Regions from separate parts of the Homo sapiens genome. Here region 2 is linked to region 1. Evidence: fine-mapped QTL for protein levels in blood plasma. Region 1 holds a variant in brackets. A gene starts in the other region. All regions are shown on their forward strands.

Region 1 (8,789 bases):
CTGGGAATAATGCTGCTGTGTACAAATATCTGCTCGTGTCCCTGCTTTCAATTCTTTTGGGTATATATCCACCTACCGTTTTTTGATAAATTTTCTTGGAACATAGCCACACCCACCCTTTCCCTACTGTTCATGGCTGCCTTCCTACTACAATAGCAGAGCTGAGTGGTTGCAACAGAGACCCTAGAGCCCACGAGGATCAAAGAGTTCATATGTGAACTCTGAAACAGAAAAGGCTGCCAGCCTGTGATGTACAGCATTTGCTGCTGAGAGTATCAGGGGAGTTCACCAAAGTCTCTGATGTCAAGCAAGGGTTCTCTAGGGCTGGGAAGTGGCGGTCCATACACGGAGTGACTCAAACACAGGTGCGGCTGCAAGCCTAGACCTTCAGCATCTCATTGAGTCTCTGAGACGTGCTTTTTCCATAAACCTTGTCAGATGCTCCAAGAGGCCCCGTCCTTCTGTCTGACTCATGTGGTCCTGCCCTCTGCCCTCCCTTTGCAACATCAGGCACCAGGTCAGGAGTGTGAGGTTTTCATCACGGGCAAAACCAGTGAGAGAATCAAAGGTGACACAGCAGGAGGCAGGAGCAGCTGCCCAGGAACACAGGCCCATTGAAAGTCTCGTCGGCCCGGATGATGCTGCGTTTATGATACAGCCATTGCTGTCTCTCGTCCTCCCCACCCACCTAAGCCCTTCTAGGCTTCTCATCTGACCTACCACAGCAGGGTCCACCCCAGGTACGAGGAGGTTCTGCCCCTCCCCAGTGAGGGAGGCTGTTCCTTCACATCTCTGGGTGCCTTCATGGGGAAGGGGGACAGGATGCCAGGCTGTGAGGCCCCCAGGCTCACGCAGGGTCACCTGTGGGGATGTGGCCACTGGCCTGGTTGAACATGAAGGACACCTGGCTGCCCTCTGGCCCTGACTCACAGATTAGGGTGTGACAAGGACCCACAGAGATGTCCCCATTTCACAGATGAGTATACTGAGGCCCAGGGAGGTTAAGACTATGTCACACTGTGGGGCTCCCAGTTCCTAAACCAGCAGCCTCCCCATTCTGCTCACAGACAAGCAGGTGACAAAATTTGATACTAAATGACATACAGATACACGAGTAGGGTTTAAGATGACTGCCACACTTTTAGGACCTCTTCAGGGTCAAATGGACAGCGGTGGACTCAGGAAGGGGGCGGCCTAAAGACAAAATTCCAAATAATCTTCCAGGTAAAGTGAGGTTCTTTTTTTATGTGGCATTTGCCCTGATGGCAGGTGTTCCTCCCTGCTCAGCAGCCTGGACGTCCTGGGTGGCTGCTGCTTGGCTGTGGCCTCGGACGGTGTCCACACCAGGCGCTGGCTCTGCTCCCGTGCTCACAGCTCATCGACTACGCACCGCTTCTCCAGCCGGTGCCTGAGCAGCCCGCCTTTAGAATCAGGAGCGGTGGCTTCCACGGACTGCCGCTATCGGAGGGCCCTGGCAGCCTCCTCCTCCTTCCCTCGATTATAGAAGGGAGGCGCTGCCTCCACCATCCCAGGCTGCGTCCCAGTCCTGCTCAGCCCCGTGTCCTCCCCTGACCTCCATCTGCTCTTCATCAATGAATCTGACTGCTAGTCCACAAGGCATTGTCTTTGTAATGTCATAACATGAAATTTAAATACGTTCTTGTTCTCTTTGGTGCCCGTGGTATCTTCACAATGAATTAATTAGAGCCCGTCTCATGCACCATTCAAGAAAATAAACAATTTGCTGAATACAGGGTGCTCATGTTTCTTTACTCAACGTTGATAGGCGATTATATGCATTACTTGATCAAACTGATAACATCATTAGAACATCATTACAAACCTTGCTAAATGTTCTTGACCAGAACACTGGAAGGAATGAGATCAAAGAACTCACAGTGAAGAGAGTTTAATGTAGTGTAATCCTCTTTAACAAGATGCTCTGACATTTAAAAAAATATAGGTAATATGTGCACATGATACAAAACATGGAAGGTACAAAAGGGTACAGAGTTAGTGGGGAACAGCAATTCCCCCTCCTTCACCTGTCCCCCAGCCAGGGATCCTCACTATTACCGAGTGCCCCTGGCTCATTACAACAGCTGACGCTTGCTGGGCACATGCCCCATTCCAGGCAGCAAGCTTGGAGTTCAGATGAATTAATAAGCTTCATTTTCATAACAACTGTAGGGAGTAGATGTTATGACCATCCTCATCTGACTGATGGGGAAACTGAGGCACAGAGCAGTGAAACTGTTCAAGATTCATTTAGTCAATGAACAGTCAGGATTCTTCACCGTTGAACCTTCTGCCTCTCGGCATGGTTAAGATTGTTAGTTACCATGGGGAATTTCAGGCACCTTGGTCCTTGTCCTTTGCGGCAGGTTCTTTCCCAGAGAACCAGTACCCTCAGCATGTGTGCACTTTCCTTCATTTCAATAAGGAAATCATGGGAGGCCTATATTATGTTTCAGGTACATATTATTCCATTATGTCTGTATACGAGTGTGTGTGCATATGTGTGGATGTATAGAATGTGTGAGTGTTGTATACACGTGTATATACGTATGCCGGTGTGTGTGTGTGCATATGTATATGGATGTGCAAGTGTTTGTATACAGATGTATATATATGTATACAGTCATGCCTTGGCATCCGTGGGGGGCTGGTTCCAGGCCACCCTGCAGATGCCAAAATCCACAGATGCTCAAGTCCCTGATATAAAATGGCATCATATTTGCATACAACCTACACACATCCTCCAATACTTTAAATCATCTTTAGACTACTTATAATACCTAATACAATGTAAATGCTGTGGAAATAGTTGTTATACCATATTGTTTAAGGAAAAATGACAAGAAAATAGTTTCTACATCCACCATACATTTTTTTTTCATGTTTTTGACCTGAGGTTGGTTGAATGTGTAGATGTGGAACCCGTGGATAAAGACAGCCAACTGCATATGTATTCAGGCGTGTGTGTGTATCTGTGCATATACACGTGTATATACATATCCAGGTGTGTGTGTTTATGTAAGGTTCATAAACAAATGACTCTGAAACATACCAGGTAGGTCCTTGGTTTTCCCACAGTTCTCACATCCGAGTGAGCCTCCTGGGGCCACTGCTGGGTTGCCCTAACTCAGAACTCCAGATCTATGGCTCGCCACCTTCGTACATGTCAGCTTCACCTGAGTAGCTTGAGCAACCCCATGTGGGTGGGGGCTTGGCCCCAGATGGACGTTCTGGTTCCAGAGGTCTGAACAGCCACTGGGGAGGTGGGTTCTGAAATCCTCTGCGGGAGAAGCTGAGCTGTATCCAGGAACTGCATGAGATACCGAGAAGACAGGCCCAGAAGGCTGTTTCTTCATTTCCTGCCAACCAATCCTGGGTCCTTCCAGGCTCAGCTCAGCATCATCTCCTCTGGGGAGCCTCTCCCGCCTAAGGGGGTCCCAAGCACGTGGCCCCATAATGGCTGAGTCCTCCAGGGGCTGGGCCGGATCTGCACCATCTTTATCCACTGGCTCCTGGCAGGACCCCTAGGTCAGCACATAACTTCCACCACGCCAGAGCAGCATCAACAACACTGCACCCTCGCCATCCTGCACCCCAAACCTCTCCTCCTGAGGCGTTCCTTGTCTTGGTAAAAGCCACCACCAAACCTTCCCAAAGGGGGCTCTTAATGGCTCCCAAACCCGCTCCCCTCATCGCACCAGCCCTAGTGCAGGCAGCCCCACCCCTCTGCTTGGACCCTCGCTGGCCTCTTAGTCTCTCCCGTACCACCGCACTGACACTCCCACCCTGACTCCTCCTTGTCTCGGAGAATACACGACCAGCCAGGACCCCTCTCCAGCCACAGGCCTGGCCCTGCCCACACTGCCCTCTGTCATCCAGTGTAAGGGGCCCTGCCCTCACACACCGTTTCACACCCCTGTGCTCGCTCAAGTCCCCTCAACTCCTACTCTGCTTTTAACCATCCCCTCGGCTGTCACTGACTCCAGGAAGCCCTCTCAGGCCTCCCAGGCCCTGTATGCCCAGACATGGCTATGACACCCTTTGTCCTCCCTCCCTCCACCATAAGCCTTCAAGGGCAGGAGCTATGTTGTCTGTCAATTCTCAGGGCCTGGCTGTGTCTGGAACACAGAGGAGCTTGAAATCTGCCTGATGAAATGAACAGACTTCTGTCTCCAAATGACATTGGGAGGATACACAGGTCTCCCCCCATCCCATCTGTGTCCAGCTGTCCAGTGAGGCCCCGCATCCAGAGGTGGGGTGAGCATGCCCCCAGTGCCTTCTGGCCCGGGCTCTGCTGTCCTGTCTTTGAGCTCTCTCTCAGTCCCCGTCCCAGGACAGCTGTGAGGTCGGGAGGAGGCTATGGAGCCAGGCAGACCACCTCCCGGCTGTATGGTCTGGGCAAGACCCCCACTGGCCTCTCTGGTCTGAGGACTTGAGGCAGGCAAGGCCTGGCCGGGCACTCCCTTCCACTGGCCAGTGCCCTTCATTCATGGCACGCACCAGCCATGAGAAGAACTCTCGGGCGCAGGTGTGGACAAGCAGAAGCGGCTTGCAGGGCCACACAAGGGAGGGGTAGGAACCCTCACGAGGGGAAAGGCCTGGCTTGGGGTTTACAGAAAGGGCCTCCCCCATCATGTCGTTTCTTTAAATGTGA[A/G]TGTAGCTGGCTTCAAACAAAATCTCAGTGGGCGCTGCCAGCTCGGGTTCACTCTGCCAGAAAAGACTAAATGTTTTTTGAAGATCCTGAGGAATGGAGGAGGAAAGCCCAATCTACTTTACATGTTTAATTTGCAGCAAAGTCACCGAGAAGCACGCCGAATCTACCCCAAATGACATCAAATAGTTCCAAAGGTCCACCCGCCCACTCAGCTCTCCAATGGACGTGACTGCAGACACAGGTGCAGTTCGTAGCCCTCGAGCAGGCTGCGTTGTTGGTGGGGGTGGGTCGGCTAAGCGCATACTTTGGTAAGTCTGCAAAATCCCCACCCCACCTCCCCAGGCCAGCCCAGCCAAACCCTTCCACACGGGAACAGCTGATAAGCAGCCACAGAATGTCTCAATTCAAGGCCTCAGTGATGAATGGACTGCAGATGAGGCTTCTGACTTTGCAAAAAAAAACTGTACTTTATCACTCCCAAAGCCTGCCCTTGGCTGGAAACAGATGTTCCAAACCCCGTCCGCTCCGCAGCTGCAGCGTGCCTGCTTCCGGAGCCGCTTGTCTGTCTTCAGGGCCGGCATCTGCCGAGGGCCTTGGCTTTCTGGGAAGAGTCTATGTCTAAAAGTCATGGTCGTCCGAGTTCAGTTATATAATGTTATTGATCCCGGTTGGTTTGCTTAAGAAAAACACAACTAATTAGACTCTATAAAAACCTACACACCAAATTAATTCTGTATTGCTCTAGTGACTTCCGCCTGAAAAAAACGTTATAAATATAGATGACCACTGGACCTATATTTAGCCAGCACTGGATTACCTGGTATTTATAATTAAGGAAGTCCAGAAAGAGAGAGAGAGAATGGACATTTTGTTGTTATTTCTTAAAGCATTTTTTAAAAACTGCTTCCCATTTCAGTCACATATACACATAGCAACATTCTGTTATTGCAATAATTACAATCCTGACCCAAGTTAAGATGATTGCACAATTTCCCAGTCTCCTAAAATTACTTTCTTCAACACATATCCACCCAAACTATGCAATTAAGCTGTTCAACATCCTAAAAATTCCTGAGAAATCATTAATTCTTACTTAGCAAACTTCATTTTTCTCTTCCCTTAAGTCGCCAAACCAAATGGTCCGGCTTCGGATGAGAACGTTTAATTTCTACATGTGGTCTCGGCCTATATTTTCAAGGTCTACAAAAAGCTACCTGAAAAAACTACAATCCTGACTTTGAAGATCTCCATTTTAAATCATTTCCTGGTTGCAGGTTTCTTTACGGCTGTCTGGAATTAGTTGTTTTACCGGATTCCTAAATCCAATGCCTCTTGAGTATTCATTTTTGTTTTGTTTTGTTTTAATTTTAAGATAAGCTGTAAAACTCTTCTTTTTCCTGAAAAATTCCAGTCTAAAGTCATCATATGGGGAAGAACATGGTGTGTGTGGGGTGGGAAGATCCGGGGTGGCCCAGAACAAGGCACTGCTGCAACTCAGAAGGTGAGGAGGGCGCTCACATGGGGGAACGTGGAATCGAGCCCGTGGGGCTACGGGTGGGAACAGGCTACTCCAGATGTCAGTCCAGGCAGATAACCAGGCTGCCCACTCAGGGAAAGTGAAGACACAGGACATGGCAGATTGGTTACCCACAGAGCACAGATGGAACATGTTACTACATTAGGGGCCCTTACAACTGATAAAGACCGGTGGAATTCCCCGGTGTCCATGGCTGTGCTGCACGGCTCTGCAGACACAGTCCTTGTTTATGCAAAGGACACACTGGAGCACTGGGGCTGGCGGGGCCGGGGTCACCAGGTTCTCTGCGCTGGGTCAGTTGAGCTTTGCCCTGTGCATTCAATTTTTCTGTAAGTTTGTGATTGTTTCAAAAAATTGTAAAAGAAATTTTTAATTGTAATAAAACAAGGTAACCAGACCTTTTAGCCCCTTTCCCAAATAAAGCTTAAAGAATGTATGGTCTAAACTGAAGACAAAACTCTTTCTCTAACCCCATGCTGAGAAGCGGCGACAGACTGCTTCTCAGAGCTGCCCCATTCCTTCCTCCCATCAAAGGAGGGCCCGTGGGATCCAGGAATTATTTTGTAAAAGAGACAGAAAATGAGGTGTATTTCAAGGGCAGGTGACCTCTGGGGTAGGGAGGCTGCTTGAGGCCTGGCCCTGCCCCATGTGCCCAGGGCCCATACCTCACCCCCAGGCAGAGCACACGCCCCTGCTCCCCGCAGGCTGCCCCTGTGCAGCTGATGTGTTAGTGGGAATGGATTTGAGCCACATCTCCCTGCTGCTCGCTAACTTCCCTGTGCCATGTTTGGCCTCTCTAGTTGGGTGAGGTACCCCCGATGCCCACAGGGCCCAGCCTGGGACCCCATGTCAGGGAGGAGGTGAGCCTGCGGAGGCTCCAGGAACCCAGAACTGCGAGATCTCCTGAACTCTTCCAGAGAAGCCAGCATTTGGATCCGACATGCGCTCTCCCGAGTTTTTAATAATGGCAACTCATTGTACATGTTACCACCACTGTGTAGCCTGCCTAACACATGCCTGCAGGCTACAGGCAGCCTGTCGCCTGGAAAGTGGGGATCGAGACATTTGGTTGAGACTTTCCCAACTTGAGGAGGCCCACTGTTTACTTTTTTCTTTCTGAGTATGCGAGAAGTAGGGGGTGCCTTATCCTCAAGAAAGTCTCATCTAGAGAATTTGCCAGGGGAGAGAGGCTCCGGTACGAGTCCAGGTCTACTCTCAGCATAGGGCAGCTCTGCTCGTGAAGAGTGGACTGTGTCTGTGACCTTGAGCACCAAAGGCTGTGCACAGCACACCTGGGCACGCTGCTTACATCATGGATCAGAGAACAAACTACACTGAGCACCCAAGGCAGTCAGGGGGAGCCCGTCTGGCTCCTGCCAGGCCCCCTCCTGGACTCCCCAGAAAGAAGGGTCAGTGCTGGGCTGCAGCTCATGGCTACTTGGCCAAGGGAGGTCATGTTGGAGGAGGCTACAAGGTTTTTAAAAATAAGATTTTGTCTTTATGAAAGACATGTTGGAAATTCACATTTTAATACCTAAAACACCATCACTTGAGAGCAAGTTATCCCAAGGGAAATCAAAAGGAATTCTAGAAAAATTAATCTTCAAATTTTCACTTAAAAATATATACCTCCTGTACCCGAAGATGTGAAAACGGGGTTCTGAACAAATATCTGCATACCCGTGTTCACAGCAGCATTTTCCACAAAAGCCAAGGGGTGGGAGCAACCCAGGTGTCTGTGGCTGGTTGAGTGGATCGACAAAACCTGGCAGGGACACACGATGGAATATGGCTCAGCCTGAAAAAGGGAGGAAACTCTGATGCATGCTACAACACAGATGAGCCTGGAGGACGCTGTGCTCAGTGAAATGAGCCAGGCACTAAGGACGAATACTGAACGATTCTCCCTGTATGCGGTACCTGGAATGGCCAAATTCATAGAGACAGAATGTGGTTGCCAGGGGCTGTGGGGGAGGGAGGAGTGGGGAGTTGGTGTGTAAAGGGTACAGAGTTTCAGGCCAGGCACAGTGGCTTCTGCCTGTAATTCCAGCACTTTGGGAGGCCGAGGCAGGTGGACAGATCACATGAGGTCAGGAGTTAGAGACCAGCCTGGCCAACAGCGTGAAACCCCGCCTCTACCAAAAATACAAAAATTAGCCGGGTATGGTGGCGTGCACCTGTAATCCCAGCTATTTGGGAGGCTGAGGCAGGAGAATCGCTTGAACCCAGGAGGCGGAGGTTGCAGTGAGCCAAGATCACACCACTGCAGTCCAGCCTGGGCAACAGAGTGAGACTCCATCTCAAAAAATGAATGAATGAATGAATGAATGAATGAATGAATAAATAAATAAATAAAAGGGTACAGAGTTTCAGTCTGAGAAAATAAAAAAGTTCTGGAGATGGACAGTGGTGATGGTTGCATAACAACGTGAAAATACTAAATGCCCCAAACTATACACTTACAAACAGGTAAGATGATATATTTTCTATTATGTGTATTTGACCACAGCAAACAAACAAACAAACAAAAAACTCTCCTCTGCATTCTGTCCCCACCTTTCCCACCTCTCTTGTGTCACT
Region 2 (8,789 bases), not on the chromosome of region 1:
TAGAGTTATTAATTAAAGCACTCAAGGCTCATTGTGACATTCATAGGTGATTCTGTTCTTTTTTTTTAAATTTTTTACAGGTACATAGTAGGTGTATACATTTTGGGGTACATATTTTGATATAGGCATGCAATGTGAAATAAGCGCATCATGGAGAATGGGCTATCCATCCCCCTCAAACATTTATTCTTTGAGTCACAATCCAATTACACTCCATAGGCAATTGAAATCTTATGCCTGAGAGAAAATTGGGAATAGTGCTGCCCCAATAATCTGAAGTTTGGTTTGGAACTGAGTACTGTATCAGGACGCATCAACATTATCTCCATTCTTGTCAATAATATTCTCTTACTTTAGTATAGCGAGGGTGAGTTTGCAAAGCCCTTTCATGTCCTATGACCCATTGACCCAGTGAGATTGACAAGGCAAGGATTGTTAGTATCACTTTATCAAACAAAACAAAACAGGATATAAATGGTACAGCTGGGTGTCAAAACCATTTTCTCCGATCCCTCCTTTCTCCAGCTTATCTTGCTCTCTTAACCAGGGCAGCATTTGAGGTGGGCTTCTAGGCAGATGAATTCAGTTAGAGTTTTCAGCTGTGTACTGCTGATGAAACCTGCTTCTATTTGTAGGTCTTCCCTGGGGGTAGGCTCAAGTGCTAGTTTTGGACTTTCTTCAGACTTCTGCTCAGTCTATGATACTGTACTGACCTTGCAAAGCCCTCGTAGTTCCCTGCATGAACATTTCAAGGGCAAAGTCATAAATGGCCATTTTAATGGGCTGGTCATCATCTCGAATTGTGATCCTGGGAATCAGATTCTTGGTTTTCTAGATCAGTGCTGCATAATATATGATATGAGCTATACATGTAATTTTTAATTTCCTAGTAGCTATATTAAAAAAGGAAAAAGCAGGTAAAATAAATTCTAATAATCTATTTTATTTAACACAAATATCCAAAATATTACCACTTCAACATGTAATCACTATACAAATTAAGATATTTTGCTTTTTTTTGTACTAAGTCTTTGAAATTCAATGTGTTAACATCTATTTCACATCTCAGAACTAGCCACATCTTACGTGCCTAAATGGCTAGTAGTCACTATACTGGAAAACACAGGGATAGAAAATTCTTCTAGAAAAAAATAGTGAAGAGAAAGCAGCTCCTTTCCCTCTACTGATAACAGAGAATGAGTTAGGCAGTGACCCTTATATTCTGACATTAATCATCATAATTTATCAGTCATACATCATCATAGAGAACCTCTTCACATCATAGCAAAATTACTTTCTAGTGACCTAGCAGCTTCTAGACCTTAAAAATGTTGAATAGGATTATCCATACATACAGGCGGAGAAAATAGGCTATGATAGAGATGGGCTACGAGGTGTTGCATGCTCCAAAAATATGGTCATGTATCCTGCCATATGCCTGACACACCTTCCATTAAAACATCTTCTTAACAAACTTTTTTTTTTTTTTTTTAACACATCTACTAAAATGTGCAGAAAGAAGAATAAGTCCTTCTGGGTCAGGGGAGGTAGAGAGCACAAGCATGAATAAGACATAGATGCTGCCTTCAGTGAAATTTGTGGTCTCCGAGGGAAGACAGTGGATAATGCAGGTAGGAGATAAATGTCCATTATATGATGAAAATGAAAATTGTCCAACTGGATCTTCAGAAAACCGCTGTTAATATTCCATTGTTTCTGAGTTAGAAGCACATGAAATAATTACCCTTCACTATTTACCAGTTACACAGGCATACACTGATTTGTTGAATTTGCTTGAAAAGTAGAGCCGAAGATCCTTTGAAAATGGAAGAGGTTTTCATGGGGGAAGAGATGAGTGGGGGCGAATGAGAAACATCTCCTTTATATGGCAGATGCGGCAGTTTCTTGATGATGGGGAGAAGCAGCTTAACGTATTAGGCACTAGACCCCAGCGTCCAGTGACCAGGGGATAATGCTGACAGGGAACGGAGGGCAGGAGTGAATATCGTGAACACAAACTTTGTCTATTTCAAGAGCTTTGCCCCTTCCTGGACTGACATTAAATGCTTATCTGAGCAGGCAAATACAGTGCACATGTTTACATTGGGGAGGTAGCGGAGACTAGTAGTTTAGGACCAGGGTTCAAGACTCAGCTATTTGTGTGACTTTGGAGGAAGTAATTTAATCGCTTTGTGCCCCCCCTCAGTTTTCTCATAAGTAAAAAATGGCTTAATAGGATTTAATTAGGTGCTATACAGAAAGAGTTTAGACCAATGCCTGACACATGGCATTCACCCAATAAGTGTCAATAATTATGATTCGTTTTGGCATTATTATGTCAGTAATAACTATTAGCTATGATTCTCCTCTAATTTGTTCCTAAAGTTTCATGAGACTCGATTTTATATTAAGGAATCCTGCTAAAAAGTAGACATATTCTAATAAGAATTTCCTTCAGATGGCAAAACTGGGGCAAAGAGATGAAAATGACTTGCCCAAGGGCTCAGAGGCTGCTCCTAAATGGGGAGAGAGGCTATTTAAGGCAATGGCGGTGGATTTCCCCAAAGACAAGGGTTTCATACACGTAGAGTCTGGAACGGGAGTCCAGGCTGTACCACTTAACTCGAGGGGTCATTTGGGAAGTTACCTGATTTCTCTGAGCCCTGGATTGTGCACCTGCCAAATAGATATAATAAATATACCTACAGTTGGTAAAACTCAATAGCATGACGCATGAAAACTGCATGTGGTCTGGGCTCAATAAAATCAGCCTCCCCATTGATTATTATCATTATTATTACTATTGTTATAACAGATCTTTAGGCGGCGTCAGGAAGTGCCTGTCTGGGATGCTATAATGCGTTTGGCTCACCACTATGCCCCAGCGCCTGGCACCTAGTAAACACTCAGGAAACGTTTGAGGAATGAATATACGTCATTTGAGGCAAGACAGGGCAGTCGGCTGACTGCCTCCGGGCTTAGCTCTTCCCCTCCTTGCAAAAGCCGGAGCCCTAAGCAGCGTGTAGCCCGGGAGCCCAGGCATTACTTGGCAGCGGGTGAAACCCACCTTGCCCCATTCGGAGCTCTTGGAGAGCGCCCCGCCTGGATGCGCATCTCTGTGTGAGCGGCTCTTTCCTAAGCCCTTATTTTTCTGGTTTGCGGTTTATTTACTTAAGCATTTACAGCTCCCAGGAGCAGAGGGGCTGCTAGAGGTACGGTCAGGACTGAGGTCGCGGTTTGTATTTATTTTCTGCCTCCCAATCTCAGAGCCGGCAAGTCACAACACGGCTCCTTTATTTGTGCACCGGAGAGGTCTGCCTTTCTTTACCTCCTCACGGGCGATAAAAGACAAGCAACTCGGGCTCAGAAAAGTGCTCTCACGCGACTTGCCTGTGTCTCCGCTTGCGTGGACCGTCGCTCCCAGGCTTGGTTTCTCGTGCAAACCCGAGCAGGGCGGAGCAGATTAAATAAAGACACCTCGCGCCTTTAATCCTTGACCGCAAACACTGGCGTTTTTGTGCCCCGGATTTCTGAAATTCTTGGCTCGGGGAACCAAGGCAGGGGGAGGGTGGGCTTGTAAAAACTTCCCAAAGCAGAAATCCGAGCTCCTAGCCCCTCCCCGGCCCCAGTGACACCTGGATTCCAGGGAAGGGGGGCAGCCGGAGGAGAGGCGTCCCCAAGGGTTGCGGGCGCTTCCCAGGGGTGACTTTGAACGGCTGGCTCCAAGCCCTACCGACCCCAGCCAAGGAACAGGCTCAGCAGCCTGAAAGCCTCGCAGGACGCCCCTCCCCTGTCCCCGCACGCGTCTATTTAGGGCCCAGCCCGGGCGCCCAGGGGATTCTGGGACTTGTAGTCCCTCCCCGCAGCCTCAGGCGCCGCCACGACCCGCTACTTGGACTACATTGCCCAGGGAGCTTCCCGGCCTATATAAGCCACCCGGAGCCGCTTTAAAGTGCAGTAACCATGTGGATGTGCTGCTGAAGCGTTTCCTCAAGCTCGCTGGGGTGGGAGGAGAGGAGGAGGAGGAGGTGGTGGTGGAGGAGGAGGCAGGGGGTGGAGAGAGAGAAAGCGCACGCCGAGAGGAGGTGTGGGTGTTCCGCTTCCATCCTAACGGAACGAGCTCCCTCTTCGCGGACATGGGATTACCCAGCGGCTGCTAACCCCTCTCCTCGCCCTGCTCCCCCAAACCGGCGTGGCTCCCCGGGCACCAAGGTAGCGGCTGGGGCCGGGCAGAGGGCGCGGGGAGTTGGCACTGGCTCCCCGGGCGCAGAAGTTTTTGCCCCGCTCTCGGGGAGATCTTGATGGATGTGCATGCACTTGGCATGCATTTGGGGGTTCCTTTACTGCGGGCAGTTGTTTTGGGGGGAGCTCATTTGAAGCTTAAAAAACAAATATCCTCTACTCTAGTGCGTGGCTTTGGGGGCTCCCCATTCTGGTCTGATGTGGCATTCCCCCAAGTTGGAAACTGTTGCTGCAGCTGCAGGAAATAGTTCTTTTTTTTTTTTTTTTTTTGAAGAGAGGTTGTGGGGGTGTCATATGTGAGTCTGCTCAAGGAAATAATCTTTCTAAAAATGTATCCCTCTCTTGCGCTCCGTGGTTGGGAGAATAATGCATGTGTAGGGGCCCCCCGTGGGGAGGGTTTTTAAAAACGGAAGAAAACCGGAGAAGCGGTGAGGGATGAAGTGTGGACGAAGCTCATGTCCAATGAGGATGCGGGCTTCGGATACTTGGCCTTCTCGCCGGGAAACAAGTGCTTTGGGATCTGCCAAACACTTCCCTTAGTTCCAGCCTCCCGCACGTTCGAAGTTTGTGCGTGCCTAGTCTCAATTGTCAGTTACATCCTGGAAATAAGTAAGCGTAGTTACCTGGAATCTTCGCCCAAGCGATCCCACCAACCTGCCTACCAAGTTTGGGGGCGGGGGGGCTGTCCCCAGTGAAGGAGGCTAAAGAAGGTGGAAACTTGTAATTTGGAGCATTTCTGTTAGAGCTCATCTTCCGCGGTCTGGTACTCAGTCTTCTTTCTTTCTAAATATTTAGGAGCTGACTACAGAGGAGCAGGATTTGCACCCCTCGCTGGGCTTGCTTTGGCAACAGAGTGCCTGACCCAGGTCAGGTGAGTGTGGAAGCCTGAGTGCTGTAGTCAATAATGAGTTTTTGTCCTAAGCCTATTTTAAGTTCTATCTAAACCGCCAAGGAGGTGGGGAGTAAGAAAGAAAAAGAAACTCCGTGGCTCAGTCTTCAAAATTTGCCTCTGCCTTTGGTGAGGGCTTTTGGGAGCAGAGGTCCAGTGGACAGTCCGTTTCTTGGAAGTAGCTGAGAATTGAAGGAGCCTGAAAGTTTATGAGAGAGGAGGGGAAAAGGCCATTAAATGGAGCAATAAAACGGCGGCCCATTGCCGGTCTGAAAAGCATGCTGATGATTTAAATTCTGAAGGATACAGTGCATTTCATATGCCAAAATGTGTAAGCAGTATTAACTGCCTCTCTCCTTCAAGAAATAGTCACTCTTTTCTAATTTTGAACGTGTGCTTAATCAGAGTAGGTTGGATTGCAAGAAATGAAAGTGGTTGCTGCAAGTTGAAAGAATTAGAACTTTAAAAAGGGAAGTGAGTTATTGAAGCTTAAGGTGGTAGCATCCAGCCCTTGACTCAAGCCACCTGAGTGTCAAGGAATCTGGCAGGTCCCTGTTGTTTTGGGGCCCGTGGTGGAATATGAGCTGAGAGCAGCATTTATCTGTAAACACAACAGTTCCTATTTTTTCCCCAAAATGGTCAGACTGCATTTGAAGAGTGGGAGGTTTCAACGGGTGCACGTACATCACTATTGCTGCAGATTTGGCTATCAGGAGTTTTTTCTCCTGAAATGTTCAGGAACATGGTAAATAACAGGGTAACAGAGGTAGGTGGGGGTGGGTGGCTGGGTCTTAATAACTTTTTTAACATTCTAAATATTTAGCTGTTCCCTGGGCTACAATCTTTGGGCTTTTCTAATGAGAAAATAAAAGTCAGACACTTCATTATAGTGGTATAGTGCTTTTGTTTCCTGTTGATAAGATCCTCAGGAGTACTGGCGGAGTGAGAAGCATTTGGATGTGAGAACTCTAGTTTCTTCTTGGAGTTCTGTTGACTCACATGGCTGTGTGGGTGCTCATAGAGCCAAGGATTAGGCCCAGTTCCCCTTTTCAGAATTAGCTGTACAGCAAGGAAAAACTGGTCCACAGACTCTTTTCTAACTGGTTGCTAAAAATAATAAGATGGACACATTAAGTACTTGTAAGCCAGGTCCAGAGCCATGTATCTCAGAAACCCTGTGCGTCAGATGCAGGTGAAGAAACTGAGGTGCAGAGAGTGAAATCACTTGCCCAGTAGCTAGTACAAAGTAGGAGCAGGGTGTAACCTCAGGCGGTGAGGCTGTACTGCATCCCACAAATGGACCTCAGTTGATTTGGGGATGCTGGTGGTGAGAGGGAAGCTAGGAAAAATGGTAAACTTACTGCTACTGATGAAATAACTTGCATACCTCCCACCAATGATGAAATAATACATAACATTGATGTAAGAAGGAAAGGATGTAGCCACAAACATAGGGATAAAAGAGTGCAGATATTTGAGGAGGTATTAGATACTGTAATGAGTTCATTTTGGAAAGCCTGAATGGGGAGAGTAAAAAGAAACAAAACCACAAGGAACATTATGTAAGTTAAGCATTAGGCTCACCTCCTAGCTGAAATACATCTTGATTGTTTACATCAAAGAATCTGAGTAGGTTAAAAGGATCAGGCGTTTCCCCATCTGAATAATTCGAAAGTTTAAACTGCAGTTAGACTGCAATGTGAAATGTTGATACCTTTTCATATACCTTCCAGTTTGCTTTGCAGCCAGTTGTGCAGACGTTTTTGTTCTCCATTTTTTCTTTCAAGTTCATGTGTGTGTGTGTGTGTGTGTATGCATATGTACACTGAAAGTACAATCTGCTCTTTGAATAATTCAAATCAGAACAGAAAATCCTTTCAAGATATCATTCTTATCAGGCAGGGAAAGTTCTTCATGTTCTAAGTGAATTACTCTGGCTCTTGCCTTGAGACCCATGAAAGTCATTTGGGGTTGACAATGGTATCTATTTAAACCAAGTGATTGTCTTTTGGAGGGAATTGGCATCTTTTCTTTAGGAATGAGAAGTGGAATGGTTGCTTAGAAAAAAAGAGATAGATGAACTCCACAGAAAGATCAAGAGTCTTTTCTTCAAAATATTTTTAAGTGAGGAAGATCAGGGTGTTGGTATTGCGGGGAGGGAGGAGAGTGGGCAGAGAGAAAGATAAAAAAGAAACCTTTAATCCAATGGTGTGCAACCAACTGACTTCCAGAGGGGGGAATATCACATGGCTTTTCAACTCATTTATAAAGATATCATGGAAACTGTCTGATTTCTTCATGAGCAGCTCTTAGAAAACAAACAAAAATAAAACAAACACCAAATATGAACAACAGAAAAAAACAGCCAAAATAAAAGTAGGCCTGGAGTTAGGTTTCTAGGTCAAGCTGTCTTTGGCTACATCTAATTAAGGAGTCTCCACAGGGCCAGTGTCTATCTTGTTTACTATTGGTTTGATTTTTAAAAATAAAACACATTGCATTTGCAGGCTGTCTGTTAACCAGAAGTCCATGCAGTTTTTTTTTTTTCCATTTTTGCTGTTTTAAGTTTGTGCATAGCTCAATTGATGAATGCAATTAAGGCTTGAAGTCGGTGATGTGAATGACATAACTTCTATGATTCCTTACAATTCTCTTGGTTTCTGTGGTTCTGAGATGATTGCTAATGAGAATAAGCCAGATACACCACTGAAACCGTCACCCATTCAACTTTGAGATTTCTAAATTGGATGTAGTTTAAGGCACATGGTGTGGTAAATCTATTTAACAGACTCTAAGACCTGTTCAAGTTGTGTGCGATTCAAATGTTTTATTCTTTATTCAACAAATTTCTTGAGCACCTGCTATGTACTAAGATGTATTCCAGGTGCTCAGGATATAGCAATGAACAAACCATCCCGTTCCCAAGAGGCTTACATCTCAGTTGGTGGGAGGCAGCCAATATAAATAAACAAGTAAGTATTATAGTATTAGAGGTAGTAAAAGCTATGGAGAAAAAGAAAACTGGTTAAAGGGGGAACAGAAAATAACAAGTGGAGAAATTAGATCCCTTGTGCATTGCCGGTGGGAATGTAAAATGGTGAAGCTGCTGTGGAAAACAGCATGGCAGTTACTAAAAAAAATTAAACATAAAATTACTATATGTCCCAGCAATTCCACTTCAAGGTATATACTTTAAAAAATTGAAAGTAGGGACGTGAGCAGATATTTGTACACCTGTGTCAGTAGAAGCATTATCACAGTAGCCAAAAGGTAGAAACAACACAAGTCTACTGATGAATGAACAGATAAAATGTGAAATATACATACAATGGAATATTATTCAGCCTTAAAAAGGGAATTCTGACACATGCTACAATGTGGATGAACCTTGAAAACATGCTAAGTGAAACAAGCCAGAAATAAAAGGACACATATTTTATGATTTTTCTTATAGAGGCATCTAGAGTAGTCAGATCCCTGCAGACAGAAAGTAGAATGGGGATTGCTGGGGGAGATAGAAGACAGGAAGGGGGAGTTAGTGTTTATTGAGGATAGAGTTTCAGTTTGGAAAGATGAAAAAGTTCTGGAAATGGATGGTGGTGATGTCACACAACAGTGTGAATGTACTTAGTGCCACTGAGTTATAACATTTCAAAGT

Alleles and levels. Alleles are on the strand shown, and positions count from the first base shown. The strength of an association depends on the size of the effect and on how common the allele is.
With allele A in place of G in region 1, the plasma level of the protein whose gene starts at base 3,955 in region 2 is higher (weak association).

The links. A credible set is the group of variants that fine-mapping cannot tell apart. PIP is the chance, under the fine-mapping model, that this variant and not a neighbour inherited with it causes the effect. The UK Biobank Pharma Proteomics Project read protein levels with antibody pairs (Olink). The fine-mapping took linkage between variants from a reference panel, not from the people measured, so its PIPs are less certain.
Region 2: ITPR1 starts here. The variant in region 1 is the best candidate, but not a certain one, in a credible set for the plasma level of the ITPR1 protein (UK Biobank, PIP 0.53).

The regions. Positions count from the first base shown.
Region 1 is chr15:101,446,434-101,455,222 of GRCh38, forward strand. All of the region lies in intron 1 of PCSK6 (proprotein convertase subtilisin/kexin type 6), which reads right to left. Among named protein-coding and RNA genes, the nearest start is that of PCSK6, 39 kb to the right of the region's middle. RefSeq lists enhancers at 4,581-5,314, 6,331-6,625. The variant A/G (reference allele first, on the strand shown) is at 4,673.
Region 2 is chr3:4,489,394-4,498,182 of GRCh38, forward strand. ITPR1 (inositol 1,4,5-trisphosphate receptor type 1) reads left to right here and starts at 3,955. Exons shown (of 62, transcript NM_001378452.1): 1 at 3,955-4,212; 2 at 5,038-5,113. It overlaps ITPR1-DT (ITPR1 divergent transcript), which reads right to left and starts at 3,770. Exons shown (of 2, transcript NR_108075.1): 1 at 3,391-3,770; 2 at 924-1,975. RefSeq lists silencers at 4,024-4,293, 5,592-5,886.